Regions from separate parts of the Homo sapiens genome. Here region 1 is linked to region 2. Evidence: fine-mapped expression QTL. A gene starts in region 2. The other region holds a variant in brackets. All regions are shown on one strand. Distances are from middle to middle. Region 1 has its middle 6.3 kb from the start of CTD-2154B17.1. Region 2 holds the start of DAP (death associated protein).

The links. PIP is the estimated chance that this variant, and not a neighbour inherited with it, causes the effect. A credible set is the group of variants that fine-mapping cannot tell apart.
Region 1: its variant is the best candidate, but not a certain one, in a credible set for the expression of DAP in whole blood (INTERVAL, PIP 0.75).

The regions. Positions count from the first base shown.
Region 1 is chr5:10,789,118-10,797,448 of GRCh38, reverse strand. No RefSeq gene overlaps it. Among named protein-coding and RNA genes, the nearest start is that of CTD-2154B17.1, 6.3 kb to the right of the region's middle. The variant G/A (reference allele first, on the strand shown) is at 3,016.
Region 2 is chr5:10,756,191-10,764,521 of GRCh38, reverse strand. It overlaps DAP (death associated protein), which reads left to right and starts at 3,288. Exons shown (of 4, transcript NM_004394.3): 1 at 3,288-3,508. The coding sequence starts at 3,454. DAP-DT (DAP divergent transcript) reads right to left here and starts at 3,486. Exons shown (of 3, transcript NR_187555.1): 1 at 3,306-3,486. RefSeq lists silencers at 2,753-3,222, 3,303-3,732, 7,779-7,868 and enhancers at 2,385-3,230, 7,479-7,558.

The DNA.
Region 1 (8,331 bases), 33 kb before region 2:
TGCTCCCACAAGTTTTGATATTGCGACATGAAACTTGTGTCTGCGTGTCTTATGGGATAATGCAAATGAGTCATTACTTTGGTGTCACTGAGAATCTGACATTTTAGCATAGAAAAAAATACAATTGTAATATTGATGAAGCTAAGTAAAAACTCTGTGGTCCTAACTTTGAACTGGAAGCTTCAGGACATTCACCAGGTAAAGTTTATCTTAAACAGCAAATAAACAAACAAGTAAACAACCAAAAAAATGTTTTGTCTCTGTCTGTTGCAAGTCCTAGAATCAATGACCAGCCCAGTAACAATAAACATCCCTAGCACCCAGGTTTTATCTTGACATTGCATTTCCCATTAAAACGAATATGTGCTCCTTGGAGAGTGAGTTTTCCCAAGCCTGCGGTAGACATATATAAGAAGAGTCTGGAACTTCGTATTATGCTAGAAAGGAAGGAAGCTGCCAAAGACTGCTAGGGAGCTATCAAAAAGACTCAGAAGCCAAGAGGAAACAACCAAATGTCCATCAACCAATGGATGGATAAATACAAAGTGGTACATCCACAGAATGGAATATTAATTGGCAATTAGAAGAAATGAAATATTGATACATGCTACAATGTAGAGGACCCTTGAAAACATTTTACTAAATGAAAGCAGCCAGTCACAAAAGACCGCCTATTATATCATTCAGTGTATATGAATTGTCCAGAACAGTCTCGTCTAGAAAGTGGATTAGTGGTTGCCTAGGTCTGGGGGTGGGGTACAGGGATGGAAGAGGTAGGTGGAGGGAAATGGAGAATGACTGCTGGTGGGTACAGGGTTTCTTTCGGGGATGACAAAAATGTTCTAAAATTAATTGTGGTGATGGTTGTGCAACTCTGTGAATATACTAAAAACCATTGAATTGTGCCCTTTAAATGGGTGTTTGTACTGTATGTGAATTATATATCTCAATAAAACTGTTGAAAAATATTCAGAGGCCAAACTGCCCAAAGATGGCAAATTTGATCCTGAACCTGTCAATATGCTTACATCCCTAAGTTCACAATTATACTAAGAGGAAAAAAAAAAAATCTTGATTATCTCTGGAGAATGTCTAGAAACAAACTCATTATTATTAAAATCAGTACATGCTATGATCTGAATGTATGTATCCCCAAAAATGCATACATGGGAACCTAAGACCCAGTGTGATAACAGTATTAAGAGGTTGGCCTTTGGGAGGTGGTTAGATTGTGAGGGCTCTGCCTTCATGAATGGGATTAGAACCCTTATGAAAGGGCTCTGGGGAACTAGCCAGGCCTTTGGCCCCTCCATCTCTCCTGCCACATGAGAATACAGTATTGATCACCTCTGGCAACAAGGCTCTATCTTGGAAGCAGAGAACAGGCCCTCATCAAACAACAAAACTCTAGGTGCCTTGATCCTGGACTTCCAGCCTCCAAAATGGTGAGAAATGAGTGTGTGTTCTTTATCAATCACCCAGTCTCATGTGTATTGTTATAGCAGCCTGGAATGGGCTAAGATAGTAAGTAAACAGAAAAATCCAAGCATTTATCGTGTCTTTCCTAAATGAACTGTCCCTCAGGGTATTAAATAGGTGACTGGCAGAATCTTTTTCTTTATAGAAATAATTCAGCTAGTGAATGAAGCGTGAAGAGTTAGGCCATCACCATTTTGCAATCCCTTATGAATTAATGGATTTAGTCAATCAGGGATTGTTTCTGTGTGGCTCTCAGGCCAATGATGGAGTTTCTATAAAGAGTGGTGAAATAAAACAAAAAAGAATATACAACAGAGACCACAGGTGGTGTATTGGTCCATTCTCACACTGCTATAAGAACTGCCCGAGACTAGGTAATTAATAAAGAGAAGAGGTTTAATTGACTCACAGTTCTGCATGGCTAGGGAGGCCTCAGGAAACTTACAATCATGGTGGAAGGCAACAGGGATGCAAGGCACCTTCTTCACGAGGTGGCAGGAAGGAGAATGCCTAGTTAAGCAGGGAAGAGCCCCTTATAAAACCATCAACTCTCGTGAGAACTCACCATCATGAGAACAGCATGGGGGAACCACTCTCATGATTCAATTACCTCCACCTGGTCTCTCTCTGAACACATGGGCATTATGGGGATTACAATTCCAGATGAGATTTGAGTGGGGGCACAAAGCCTAACCATATCAGGTGGCCTGAAAAGCCAGAACATCTACCATCTGTCTCTGTACTGAAGCATCCTGCCACCTTCAGTGCTCATCCGCCATGTCCAACCTCACAAGGAGCCGCGAGGCATCCTAATGACTTTCAGCGGAAGGAAGTGCAGCCCAGCACAGAGCTACCTTGTCAGTCACCCAACACCATCACCATGGCCAGTGGTCAAAGACAAAACATAGAGATACAAAAGGCCAATGTCCTCACCTCAAAAGGGACCCGATGGAGCTGCCATGGGATCCGGCAGAAGTTGGTCTCCAGCAGAGGCCACATCCCCACCTAGCCCCGTGCCTTCCACCGTGTGTCTTCCTGATCCCTCCTCCTCCTAAGAATTCTGGCTTCATGAATCCCTCATGTAGTCTTCCCCAGCTCCAGTTCTGCTTCTGGGGAACTAAAGGCCCTTGGCATCAGAGTGAGAGGGTGCAGGGGTGGGGAGACCTTTCGGTGCCCATGGCCCCTTCACAGCATGGAGGCATCTGCCAAATTCCACCAGCGCAGCAGGTTCTGATTTCACCCCTGTCTCAGGGTCTCCAGCTTGATTTCTCCCCTCCCAGAAGTAACTTCATGGCTTTGACATCAGGGACACGGGGGCAGCCCCAGAAGTGAAGCAGGAGAACTGGCAACACTGTCAGGCAGGTTCCAGGGACATGACTCCACCCACCCTTCTCTACCGAGCAGTGGCAGCAACACGGATTCCAGAGGGACACCAACCCGTCTTACTCCCAGTGGATTTCTATCCTGCGGCACTCCTAGTTTCCTCCGCCATACACAACTTCTCCATCCATCTCAATGTGCACCACATCTGGGGAT[G/A]CCTGGGGCTCCTTATAGAACCTACTCAAGTCTTTGTCAGCAAGCCTCTCTAATGTGGCAGAGGGGAGAAAAAAGAAAGGAAAAGAAAGGAAAACAAATTATTGCTGCTTTAAGACTCATAGGAAAAAAAAAACAGGTTTCCCCACTAGATTTCACATGGCTAACAGTTTTAGCTCTCATTTCTTTCTTGCAGAAATGGAAAGAAAGGTTTTTTTTGTTTTTCCTGATTTTGTGAGAGTCTGGAGAGAGAGGCAACATTTTATTTGTCGTTTGTACATTTTAGCTCCGTGTGGGTTCCTTGTTCAACTGACGGCCCAAAGAGCCATCAGTGAGGGGGAGAGTACGCAAACCACTTTGCCTGTGATCATTTTGCAGCAGGTCTGGGCAAAACCACGCTTGCAATGTATTAATGATTTCTGCATGTTTGCAGAGCAGATGGTTTTTAAGGGTATATGTGTGCTCTTGGTGGCCTGCCCCCTGCTGAACAGTGCTGCTCAAGTTCCACCAGGCATCTCAGATTCCAGAGTAAAAAGACCTCACAAAACCTCTCCATCCAACCAGCTTTCCAAGGCAAAGCTTCTGTTGAGTTGTCTCCAGGGGTCAAATGTCTTCCATGTAAGAACACATTTCAGAATATTCAACCGGAATTCTATCTTAAGTAGACTTAGAATGTATTTTCCGATATAGCTGCAGTGTCAGGGGAGCAGCATTCTCTCTTCTATTCAGTACTTCTCCCACCCAGGGTTTCAACTTCCTGCAGGTCATCCTAGGGTTGACACAATTTGAGTCGTGTTTCCTATTTCTTTTTTTCCATAGACATAATTTTCATTTTTTGACTTATTTTTGATCCTATTTTCCAATCTGGCCTGTCATGTTCATTCCATTCGTGTTTGTGAAAATGTGCTACTTGTCTAGTCCTCCTAGATGACACGCTGAAAGGTGAGCAAGTCAAATAGGAAGGCAACTGAGTGCACACCTGAATAGAATACGGGGCAGGTCTGATCCCGGCATGAGACTTTTACAAATGATGATGGTGTTACCCTGGTGGAAGATGTCTGAGTTACTGGCGAATCCATATGGGCCTGCAGCAACCTCAATTCTTGCCTCCACAGAAGAAAGAATTTAGCCGGGCACGGTCGCTCACACCTGTAATCCCAGCACTTTGGGAGGCCCAAGCAGGTGGATCATGAGGTCAGGAGACCAAGACCATTCTCACCAACGTGGTGAAACCCCATCTCTACTAAAAATACAAAAATTAGCTGGACGTGGTGGCACATGCCTATAGTCCCAGGTACTCAGGAGGCTGAGGCAGGAGAATTGCTTGAACCCGGGAGGCAGAGGTTGCAGTGAGCCGAGATCACGTCACTGCACCCCAGCCTGAAGACAGAGCAAGACTCCATCTAAAAAAAAAAAAAAAAAGAAGAAAGAATTTGACTGAGAGGCATAAGGTAGAAAAAGAGACCAAGGAAGTTTTGGAGCAGGAGTGTAAGTTTATTTTAAAAGACTTTAGAACAGGAAAGAAAGGAAAGTAGGCTTGGAAGAAACCCAAGCGGGTGACTTGAAGAACAAGTGCGGTGTTTAACCTTGATGCTAGGGCCTTATAGGCTGCCCCTTTTCCACGATTCTTCCGTTAGGCTGGGCTGCCCACATACACAGTGCTCCCCTTACCCTTGGGAAGTGAGCACCCACAGTGTGTTTAGGAAGCTGTGCACATGCCCATCTGAGGCTTTCTTCCCTTTCCTGTGGGGTGCCCTTGGAAGGTCATACTCTGCCATTTTGTCTCTTTATGTATATGCTCAGGAAGTTGCTTCTCCCTGGTGTCTGCATTCAGTGAACACTTTAGTGCAACAGGTGTGGGCCAGCAGGAAATGGCCTCTCCCTGGCACTGGCTGCCAATTTACCATTTTTAGAGAGGCATTGTGATCGTTGCTGAACCATTACCCAACCTTCCTAGTGGATGGGAGAGCCCTCTTCTGCCCTGCTCATGCTGTCTGACTACCTGTAACAATGAGGGAGGTGAAAAGGAGGGACCCAACTAGATTGTGGCTTTAGGAAAGCATATGCCTTTCTAAAGGAGATGGCACTGTGGCTGGGTTTGAGTGATGGACGTGATTTCAACAGGTAGAAATGGGAGGGGCGTGATGGGAAATGCAAATATGTTTTTTGCAGAGGGAACAGCCTGTGCAAAGGCGAAAGGCAAGGAAGCACAGCCGTGTTCCCTGGATGGGAATCAGCCCAGTGTGAGCTGAAGCCCAGAGCATGGATGGTAAGCAAGCGGGACAGTAGAGGCAGGTCCACGCCAGATCAGAAGGGCCCTGAGAGGTGGGCCAGTGCTGCCTCACTGTTAAACAGCCAGAAGCCACTACAGAGCTTTCAGCAAGTGAGTGGCTGGATTGTACGTAGTCTGTGTTTGCCCGCGAGGCCTTCCATAACAAAGTGCCACACACCGTGTGGCTCAAACACAAATTTATGTTCTCACAGTTCTGGAGGCTGGAAGTCTAATATCAAAGCGTCACTAGGTCTTGTTTCTTCTGAGGCCTCAGTCCTCAGCTTGTAGATAGCCGTCTTCTCCCTGTGTCTTCACATGGTCTATCCCTGTGTGTGTCTGTGTCCTAATCACCTCTTACTATTAAGGACACCGGTCAGATTGGATTAGGGCTCACCTCAAAGACCTCACTTAAATTTAATTGCCTCTTTAAAGACCCTACCTGCAACTACAGTGACATTCTGAGTTACTGGGTTAGAACATCAACGTGTGCATTTGGAGCGACACAGTATTCCACCTATAACGTAGTGTATCTTTATAAAAAATGCACTTAAAGAAGACGGAGACAACAGAGAAGGAGGCAATGTTGTCATGGAGGCCACTGGAGGCTGGCAGAATGAGTCCAAGGAGAAACAATAAACAAACAGGGAATGAGGACTTCAGAGATTTTGTCAAGATGGATGTTTAGGACTTGGCACCTGATGGGTGCTTCCTGTGTGGGAGGGAAGAACTAAAGATAACTCCATTGGAACTCCACGAGTCAGCTTGAACCTGGCACAGACCTTTGCGTAACAATAGTTTATCAATAACTAGGAAGGGAAGGATGAATGGATCCATGGGAGAGCTGATTTGGGCAGGGACTAAGGTGGGAGGCACACTTGCTCTCAACAGTACTTTTGTATTGCTTGAATTAATTTATTCAACAAATCAAATTCAATTCAAAAAATCAAAAACAAAATAAAAAATAATATATAATTGCAGAACTTCAAGGAGTTTTCCATTCTGGGCTAGTTTTTCATATCACTGGACTCTCTCCCTGACCCCAGGCATGTTTGTTGAGGACCGCCTCTGAGAAATCATGCCAGAGTAGAAATTGCAGTTGTCTAAAGTGAAGTCAACTACTAGAAAGAAAAGAAGAAGGAATTCACAAGAACCACAGCAAAGCAGTTATTTATGGAGAGCAATTTGATATTAAGAGGATTAACCCTGGGCTCTTCCAGGAAGATTCAGTTATTAAGGTCCATCTCACCTCCCAACAAAGCCCAACACAAGGAGCTTCAGGTTGTTAAACTGATTGAATGAGATGACACCTACCAAGTGCTTAGTACCACACCTAGTGCAGAGTACGTGCCCAGCAAGTGTTAGCTAACATCCTGTCATGCATTACATTTTGGGGACCTCCTCGGTGAGTTACATGGAGCAGAGGGTGCAGCCATTCTTGGTCACTGCCCCACAGCTCTTCCCCCTATTACTTGCCAACAGAACCCCAGCTGTGTCCAGGGACTGGAAGGCCTTGAGCTTCTGGGGGCTGAGCTCCCCCTCTAGCCCTAGAGTGAATTGGGATTGGTCTCGGCCATTCATAGTCATTTTACTCCCCTTGTTGGTGGCTAGTTTAAGATTGTGTGATGGTTACTGTTGTGTCAACTTGACTGTGCCATGAGGCATCTGGATATTTGGGTAAACTTTATTTCTGGGTGAGTCTGTGATGGTGTTTCCAGGTGAGATTAGCATGGGAATTGGTAGACTGAGTGAAGCAGATTGCCCTCCCCAATGTGGATGGGCCTCATCCAATCTGTTGAAGGCCTGATTAGAACAAAAGGCTGAGCAAGAGAGAATTTGCTCTCTCTGCCTGCCTGACTTTGGGCTGGGACGTCTCTCTTCTGCTTTGGACTCATGCTAGAACTTAACATCATTAGCTCTCCTGAATCTCAGGCCTTTGCACTGCAGATCTGGGGACATTTCAGCCTCCATAATCATGTAAGCCAATTCTTTATTTTATATATATACACACACACACAAACACATACACACTTGAGTGTATGTACATAAATATATCTATCTCCTATTAGTTCTGTTTCTCAGGAGAACCCGGACTAATACAGCTTGGAAAGAGATCACAGTCATGGTCAAGGGCAGTGGAAGTAAGAATCTGCTGGGGAACCTCTGGGAAATTATCCCTTACTCTTAAAAAGGGACAGAGATGTTGTCATCTACATGGCATGCCTGGAATTGTCATAGCCATCTCTGCATCATGAGGGAAGCCAACCCTAAAAGGATAAATCAAGCCCACGAGGATCGCAGAGAGAGAAGGGGGGAGGAATTGAGTTTTAGAGGATTTTGTTGCACTGCTGAGTTAACCAAGCCTGGTACTGGCCTATCTCTGAACTTCTTGTGAAGGAAATAATAAATGACCTTAGCTTCTTTGTTATCTGGTCTATTACTTACAGCCAAAAGCACCCTAACTGGTAAAACATTATTTGGTTCTTGTGAAAAGCTTTGGCTCCTCATCTGGTGCACCTCTCACTGTTTTCTTCATCCAGACTTGGGGTAGAGGTTTAGGGGAGTCCCTGTGCAGAGGCCTATAAACCAGCATTCTTTCCACAAGAGCGTGTTACATATCCCTGAAGCATCTTCCTCTTGGAAAAAACTTGGGCAAACAAGTATAATTTCCTGGTGGCCAAAGCGCATGTGTTTCACACTGAATTCTTCACAAGTTGAGACTTCTGTTCTCTAGTAACTGCCCTGCTTTTGCCTGGACTCTTTTCAATGTTTTCAGCATCCTGGTGCTCATGTTTTCAGCATCCTGGTGCTCACATTTCTAAACCCCAATACAGAATTCCAACTGTGGGCTCATCAGCTTTCTCCAGACTATTTTCTTTGTGTTTGCCAAGATTCTTTTCTGAGATGAGTCAGAATGCTTTTTCTACTGATAAACAAGTCAGCCTCACTGCCCCCACAACCCTGGGCTGTCTGCCATTCTTCTTCGATCCAATCTCCCCCATTGGACTTGAAATAGTAGCAATCATGACAATGCCTTACAATGCATTACA
Region 2 (8,331 bases):
ATTCAACTGAGGGGTATAAAGCAGAAAGAGAGACTGAGGCAACTTTAAAGGAGGAGTGAAAGTTTATTAAAAAGCTTTAGATCTGGAACAAAAGGAAAGTACACTTGGAAGATGGCCAAGCAGGTAACTTTAGAGATCAAGTGCACGGTTTGACCTTTGACTTAGGGTTTTATACATTGGCATACTTCTGGAGTCTTGCATCCCTTGATTCTTCAGGGATCAGTCTTATCCCCTGATTCTTCCCTTGGGGTAGGCTGTCCACATGCACAGTGACTTGCCAGCGCTTGGAAAGTGAGCAGGGGCAGTGTGTTTATTGGAAGTGTACACATGCTCACTTGAGGCAATCTTCCCTTACCAGCCTCATGTTCCTAGAAGGTCATATACCAGTCAAACGTTGCCATTTTGCCTCTCGATGTGTGGCAAAGAGATCTTACCAGGAAGCTGCTGACCACCACTTTCAGGTTTTTTCTATCTACTGGGAGACTGCCTTTCCCTGGCACTGACTGCAACCAATTATTATTTTAGAGAAACAGTGTAACAACTTCCTGACCATCACCTGATGGTCACACAACATTTCTGGTGGTGTGGGTTGTGGGGGAAGAGTCCTCTCCTGCCCTGCTCAGGCCGACTAGCTACCTACTGTAAGACAACCAGAGTTTCCCAATCAGTACAAACCTGGAGAACAGGTCACAGGCAAAGAGACACAACCTGTCAGACCTCAGGGCAGTCCAGGGGCCACCAGGGCCCCTCTGGAGCTCTGCTCCTTCCTGTGAAGGCTTTCTCCCCCACCCCCCAGGGTTCCTTACCAATAGCATTTGTTATTGAGTCTAAGATGCTGTGGCTCGTAACATGCAACTTTGTTTTAGGTACCACTAAGGGTAAAAACACTACCAATTAAATGATACCACAATGTGCTCTTTCAACTTAAAATTTTCATTTTATACTTCCAAGAAATAATTCTTTAGGCTTAAGACATACGACATAAGTTTTTAACTATATAGCACTTTTGCACATACATAAAAAGGAAGTTACTCATGAAATTAATCAGTTAGGTATCCTTAAACCTTTAAGAACGTGAGTGATGTGCTATCTCTTTAAAGAGTAACCCAGTATTAATTTCAGGATTCTCTTCTAAACTGCTGGCACCCACTTGGAAGTTTGGATGTGAATGCAAGACAATGGCAAGCATATCATGACTGCAGCCTGGCCAACAATTATCCTATTACCGGTGTTGAAATGTGTGTATGGAGTGGGGAATGCAAGACCAATGTATGCTATGTGCATCTCCATGTGTGCCCTGATGCACAGAGTTGCGCAGCACTGAGTTAGACAACAAATAGAGAAGCCAAGGTGGCGGTGGTGAGTTTGGAGTTCAGTGGAGGGGCAGAAAGAGAGAAATTAAGTTGCAGATGTGGCACCCATAAGCGTCTGCAGGTGGTGGTGGTGGTGAGTCTGGAGTTCAGGGGAGGAGCAGAAATAGAGAAATGAGGTTGCAGATTTGGCACCTGTAAGCATCTGCATGATAGTCGTCCACAGGCTGCATGTGACTATCTATGGGAAGTCTAGATAGAGAAGAAGGCCAATGCTGAGCCTTGCGATACTCAAATGTTTATAAATCTAGAAGAGGGCGAACTGCCAAGCTGACAGAGTGAGCAGCCAGGGTGGCCAGAGAACTGGAGGGTAAGGCAGTGATGTGGCACCTCCGGAGCAAAGGAGGAGGGGGACGGCCAGCTGCATCAAGTGCTGCTAAGAGCTCAAATAGAATGAAAGTAGAAAATGACCATTGGATCTGGCAGCACATAGGTTATAAGTGACTTCCACAAAAGGACCTCCCATGGTTGAGGGCAGTGCAGCAGAACTTGATGAAAACCAGACAAACTGGACTGGAGGGAGTGACAAGAGATGAGGAGCTCAGCCTCCCTGAACAGTTTTGTTGTCAAAGGGAAAAGTACAGCCAAGCGAGGGGTGGTGTTTCCTTCGCTAAAGAGATTAGGCCTGTCTGAATGCGAATCCAGCAAGGCATTGCGGAAGTTAACAGCAGTTGCAAAACACTGGGGCAGGCGGGAAGAACACGATCCAAGGCACGAGAGCCAGGGGTCAGCCACGGCAACAGGAAGATGATGGTGAAAACCAAAAGTTTCTGAGAGTGGTCTCAATTTAGGAAGTTTATTTTGCCAAGGTTAAGGACGTGCATTGACACAACCTCAGGAGGTTCTGATGACATGTGCCCAGGGTGGCCAGGAAACATCTTGGTTTTATACATTTGAGGGAGACATGAGACATCAATCAATACGTAAGATGTAGGTTGGCTCTTTAGGAGGTAAAATGTGAAGTGGAGGCGTCCGGGTCATAGGTACATTTAAAGGTTTTCTGATTGGCAACTGGTTGAGAGTTATCATCTAAAGACCTGGACTCAGTAGAAGGGAATGTCCGGGTTGCATGAAGGAGTTGTGGAGACCAAGGTGTTATCATGCAGATGAAGCCGGGAATACACTGCAAATGTTTCTTATCAGAGTCCTCTATTAGTCTTAGGGTCTCCGTGCGGATGTTTGTGAGGCCATGTTTGACTTCCGCTTCCCATCAAGGCCTGAACTAGTTTTTCAAGATAACTTAGAAGGCCACAGGCGGAGGGGAGGGTCCATCCGTTGGCTGCAGGGCTTAGAATTTTATTTTTGGTTCATAACGAGGAGGGCAGGGACAGAAGCCACCGTCTCTGCTCCCCAGCGCTGGCCCTCACTCGGAAAGCAGGCTCTCCCCTCGCATCGTCTTTTAACAAATTCCTGCTCTCTCGGCCCCCGTCGCTGCCATCTGGGCTCTCCTTTCCGCGCTTCATTAGGCGCTGCCGCGGCAGGGGCTGAGGGCCTCAGGGGACGGTCGCCTCCCTGCCGGGACGCCCCGGCCCTGGCCCGCACTGTGGGGCGCAGTCACCCAGCCGTCGCCGCGTAGCCAGGAGCCCGGCTGAGCGCGTTCGCTGCAGGAGCCATCCTCAGCTGGGCCCTACTTAACTTTCCGCAACTCCAGTCCCCGCAGCCAGTCGGGGACCCCGCCTCCCTCTCCTTCCTTCTCCCTCTCACTTCTTCACCCCTTCTCTCCCCTCCCTCCTCCGCCCCCGCCCCCGCCCCCGCCCCCGCCCCCGGCCACAGCATCCGACGTGGCGCGGCCGGCTGCGCACGCACCGTATGCTTGGCTCGCGGCCCAGCAGGGCGGGCGGGCCGCGGTGACGTCAGTGCGCATGCCGTCGGTGGGCTCGGCTGCGCCACGTCGGCGCGCGGCGGCCGCGCCCCCTTAACGGCAGTGGCACTCACCCGGCTCGCGCGGCCCCGGCGCCCCACGCGCGCGCGTCGTTCTCCCGCCCGCTCGCTCCCCGGCGCTCACACCTGAGCTCACTCGCGCACGCCCGCCCGGCCCGAGAACCGCGCCGCCGCCTCGGCCCCGCGGAAGCCCCGCCGCGTCATGTCTTCGCCTCCCGAAGGGAAACTAGAGACTAAAGCTGGACACCCGCCCGCCGGTACTGACTCTTTTCCTCTCTCTCCACGCGCGGGTGCCGGGGGCGGGCTCGAACCCGGGGGCGCCGGGCGGGGGCTCCGCGGGGAGGGCCCCGGCGAGCGCTGAGACGGGTTCCGGGCCTTGATGCCCGCCCGAGGGGCGCGGGCCGCGGAGAGGTCGGGCGCCCAGGCCCGGGAGGAGCCCGCCGGAGCTTCGGCCCCGCTTGCCGGCGGCGGCGAAGCGTTTCTTCCTGAGGACCGCGGGCGGCCGCGTACCTGTGCGATTGCGCGCAGGCTCCGGTGCCTTGGGCGAACCCAGTTGCACAACTTATAACAAAGTTTTGGCGGATAATATTTACTTAGAGGATACAGATGTCTAGAAAGAAAGTAGCAGAAGCAATGAAAAGTCAGTGGTGTTAATATCATGGTGATGATTAATTAGAGGCTGCCAGCGTTTCATACCGACTCAAGAACCAAGGAGCGGAAATAATTTTTATCATTAATCACTCAATATGACTTTCACCGCCAGTTTCTTCCACATCCAGATTTTTTTTTTCCCCCAAAGTTGCTTTTTCTGATTTTGAGCAAATCCTAAACTTCTGAGCCAAGGAAGTTAAAGCCAGGAAAGAGCGGTCTTTCTTAGAACATAGGGATCTAAGCAGCCTTCATGCTTCTGCCACCTCCTCCTCTCTCTGGGCACAGTTCCTGTTTGCACTTTGGATTCTGTCCAGACGGGTCTGTTTCCGTTTCTACTCTCCTTTCCAGTGGCAGTCGGCCCATATGGAGGGACACTGGTGAGAAGATCAAAGGCCTTGGGTCTCAGAAGCCAAGTCACTTCAATGTATGGATGCGTGAGGTTCTTTTAGGTCTTAATAGCACGCCTTAGTGTCATAAACTCAGTCTTGTAGGAACAGAAGTCTTTGAGAAACATGGCTTCTTTTGGTGGCACATTTGCGCCATTTTCTTGACAATAAAGATTCCTGGCCAGGCGCGGTGGCTCATGCCTGTAACCCCAGCAGTTTGGGAGGCCAAGGAGGGTGGATCACTTGAGGTCAGGAGTTCAAGACTAGCCTGGATAACATGGTGAAACCCCATCTCTACTAAAAGTAGAAAAATTAGCTGGGCATGGTGGCGGGCGCCTGTAATCCCAGCTATTCAGGAGGCCGAGGCAGGAGAATGGCTTGAACCCGGGAGGCAGAAGTTGTAGTGAGCCAAGATTGAGCCAAAGCACTCCAGCCTTGGCGACAAAGCGAGCGAGACTCCATCTCAAAAAAAAAAAAAAAAAAAAAAAAGATTCCCATTATCCTTCTCTGCTGTCCTCCGCTATAGGGCGGGAATTCTCTGCACCAGCACAATGAATAGGAGCCGTTCTTTAAATATGTTGCAGTCCAGAGTAGGCAATATTTTTCAGTGGTGACGGAGGCTCTCTACAACAAAACTAACTGGCACTGGGAAAGAAAAATGTCTAACTGATGCCAGAGAACTTAAGAGGCATGGGGTTTTAGAAAATCATTCCACTGTGATGGAAAATGGTTTTGGGGGAATTTGTGTTGCATTGGTTTTAAGAAAAAAAGTACTTCAAAGGGAGTTTTTTTTTTGATGGGATTTCTTTTAAGGATAACTGACTTCCATTCCACCACAGCGGGTCCCTGTCCACTGTGGGGAGGAGCGCCTTGATTTCCACCCCGGGCAGGGCTGCCTCCAGGAACTGCAGCAGCCACCTGCTCTGGCCCTCCACTCCCCAGGACATGGGTTACATTAAAGCGTATCTGTTGGAATGATACAGAACCAAAGTACAGTAATTAAATTGCATACAGAGACACACCCATAAAGAAGTTTTTTGTTTTGTTTTTTGAAACAGAGTCTCACTCTGTCACCTGGGAGTGCAGTGGCACGATCTTGGCTCACTGCAACCTCCGCCTTCTAGGTTCAAGAGATTCTCCTGCCTCAGCCTCCCGAGTAGCTGGGTTTACAGGTGCCTGCCACCACACCTGGCTGATTTTTGTATTTTTAGTAGAGACCGGATTTTGCCATGTTGGCCAGGCTGGTCTTGAACTCCTGACTTCAGGTGATCCACCCACCTCAGCCTTCCAAAGTGCCCATATGGAGATTTTTAAGGTCAGAGGTATAAACTGTACATACTCACTCCCTGGGAGAAATTCCTTGCTGGACTCTGGTTTTCTTTGAATTGCAGAGTAAACAGCTAGGCTTTGTGAATTACAGAGTAAGTAGTTTATTTACCCCTGAGGAGGGAAGAGGCAGCTTATTTGTGCTAGTGTAGCAGTGAGCTTGGGTTCTAAGTTTGAAGACATCACTTCACGCTTCACTGGGGCTCAGTTTTTCTCCTTTATGAAATTCGAGGTTTGGGCCTCGGGGCAAGTCACAGGGTGGGGCTGTGTTTGCTGCAGTGAGTCTCACGTCCCGCTTCAGCATCAGGGTACCAGCACTGTTCATCCCCCAGGTAAACTCCTCTAGTAACTTCAGGGCAACCCCTTTAGACTTACGGGGTGAGCTCTTGCGGGTGGCTGTCACCATCTGTCATCTGTCTCCAAGACCATAGTTAGAGGAGGGGCCCAATAGCAGCACCCCTCAAATGCCAGCAGCATCCCTCAAATGCCAACAGCACCCCTCAAATGCCAACAGCACCCCTCAAATGCCAACAGCACCCCTCAGATGCCAACAGCACCCCTCAAATGCGCTTTCCTAGATGTTACAGAGGACCATGTGTGAACCTTTTCTGGCAGGAAGCTCTGGTGTTCTTGTTTAGTCTGGCATTGCCAGAGAGTAGGCAGCTCTGAAGGGTAGATAGTTTTTAAAAAAAAAAAAAAAAGGCGGCCCACTACACTAAAGGATAATCATCAAGGATAGCCAAGAGCACAGTTCATAAATCAAAATCACTGCCTTAAAAATGTTGAGAATGCTTTCATTAAGTGCTTAAATTGGATAACAGACTTGTGCCTCAATGCTCAATCAGAAATAATAAAATTCTCTTACAGTGACTATCTTAATGTTCTTTTGTGTCTTCTCTTTGTTGCTGTCTGGCCCATATCTCCTGTACATTCCCCGCAATCCCCTTGTTTTCCTTCGTGCACTAACCTTCGCCTCTCTGCCTGTCTTCTTGCTTCCAGGGCTGGGTCTTCTTGATCTCTTTATTCCCGGGGTGGCACAAAATACTCAATAAGCACTCCAGAGTTTCCCCAGGGCCTCTTCTCACCCCTCACTGCCCCCATAGCAAACCGGGCCCACACCTTCCTCAACTCTGAGCTCTCTGTACTGTGCGCAGGGATGCAGGTGGTCCTCTTGGCCGGTTCAGGCAGCAGACTGGTGGAAACACTAATGAAGTTTGTTGAGTGTCACAATGTGCTGACACACTTCTAAGCGCTTGGCACGTTTAACTCATGAAATCACCAGTCATCTTAACATTGAGATACCGAGGACAGTGCCGTTTAAAAACCTGACCCAGAGCCGGGTGTCGTGGCTCACGCCTATAATCCCAGCACTTTGGGAGACCCAGGTGGGGAGAGCACCTGAGCTCAGGAGTTCAAGACTAGCCTGGCCAACATGGTGAAACCCCGTCTCTACCAAAAATACAAAATTAGTCGGGTGTGCTGGTGGGTGCCTGTAATCTCAGCTACTCTGTAGGCTGAGGCAGGAAAATCGCTTGAACCTGGGAGGCAGAGGTTGTGGTGAGCCAGGATCACACCACTGGACTCCAGCCTGGGCAAGAAGAGCGAATATTTCGTCTAAAAAAAAAAAACCTGACCCAATTGTTTGGAGTGTCTGTTGCCAACTCCCCTGAGCTAGTGACCTAGTGGGAGCGGCCGGAAAGGCTGTTGCCTTTTGGAACTTCAGCAGCCCGACAGACGACTCCATCACTGGCCAGGTGCCTCCTCCCAAGGTGGGAGACGAATGAGGCAGTTTGTAAAGGCTTCTGAAGAGTGTTAGAGAAAGGTGCTGTGCAAATACAGGTATTGTTATTTACAAGTGATGGATGGCACTGCATCATGTCCTGGCAAATGTGCTGTCGTCTGCAGTCCTCTGTAGAAGTAATCCAGCCTTAATGATTTGAGACCTTACCACTGCTCTTGACTACAAAATATTTGCAGAGAAATGGGGTGAGTGCTTGTTTGATGAGTTATTGCAAATGCAGATTAGCAGAGTTAGAATTAGCGAGATTCTTTCTGTTTCATCTAACAGCAGTCATAGCATTCCACAGCAGAAAAGAGGACCTAATTATAAGCCTCGCTATTACTCATTTCTGCCAGTCTTTGTGAGTCTGTGGCAGTGAGATGTGTAAAATCTCTTTGTTAAATACATTTTGCTGGCCCTGTTCCCCTCCATTTCCCAGTGGAGCCAAAACCATGTGTCAGTAGAGTTCTCATAAATCTGCTACATGATAGCTTTGAATGTTACTAATCTTACATGTGGTTTTCTTTGAAAAGCAGACTCTACATCCCCTCTCAAAGTGAATTAAATGGAAATATAAGCACGATTATATTTATTTCAAGCCATGTTACTTTTTTTAGTAACTTCAGAGTAACTTAGTTCTCTCTTACACTAATTGATACGTCAGACATGAGTTAAGGATGCCTTTCAAAAGTCTAGTGTAATTCTCCCTGAATTATCTCCCTGCAGAAAGACTTTCAGATTATCCATTGCTAGAAACAGAAGACTAATTTGTCTTCTATTAACCCTGTGGTCACAGATTTGCTAAGCATAGTCCCAGTGTCAACCAGTCAGGACCAGAAATTGAATGGTCCAGGTAAGAGGTCTGCCCTTGTTCCCAACATGCCAAGGAAAACAAGACCCTTTAGTTACTATCTTTTTTCAGAAGCCTTCTGTCAAG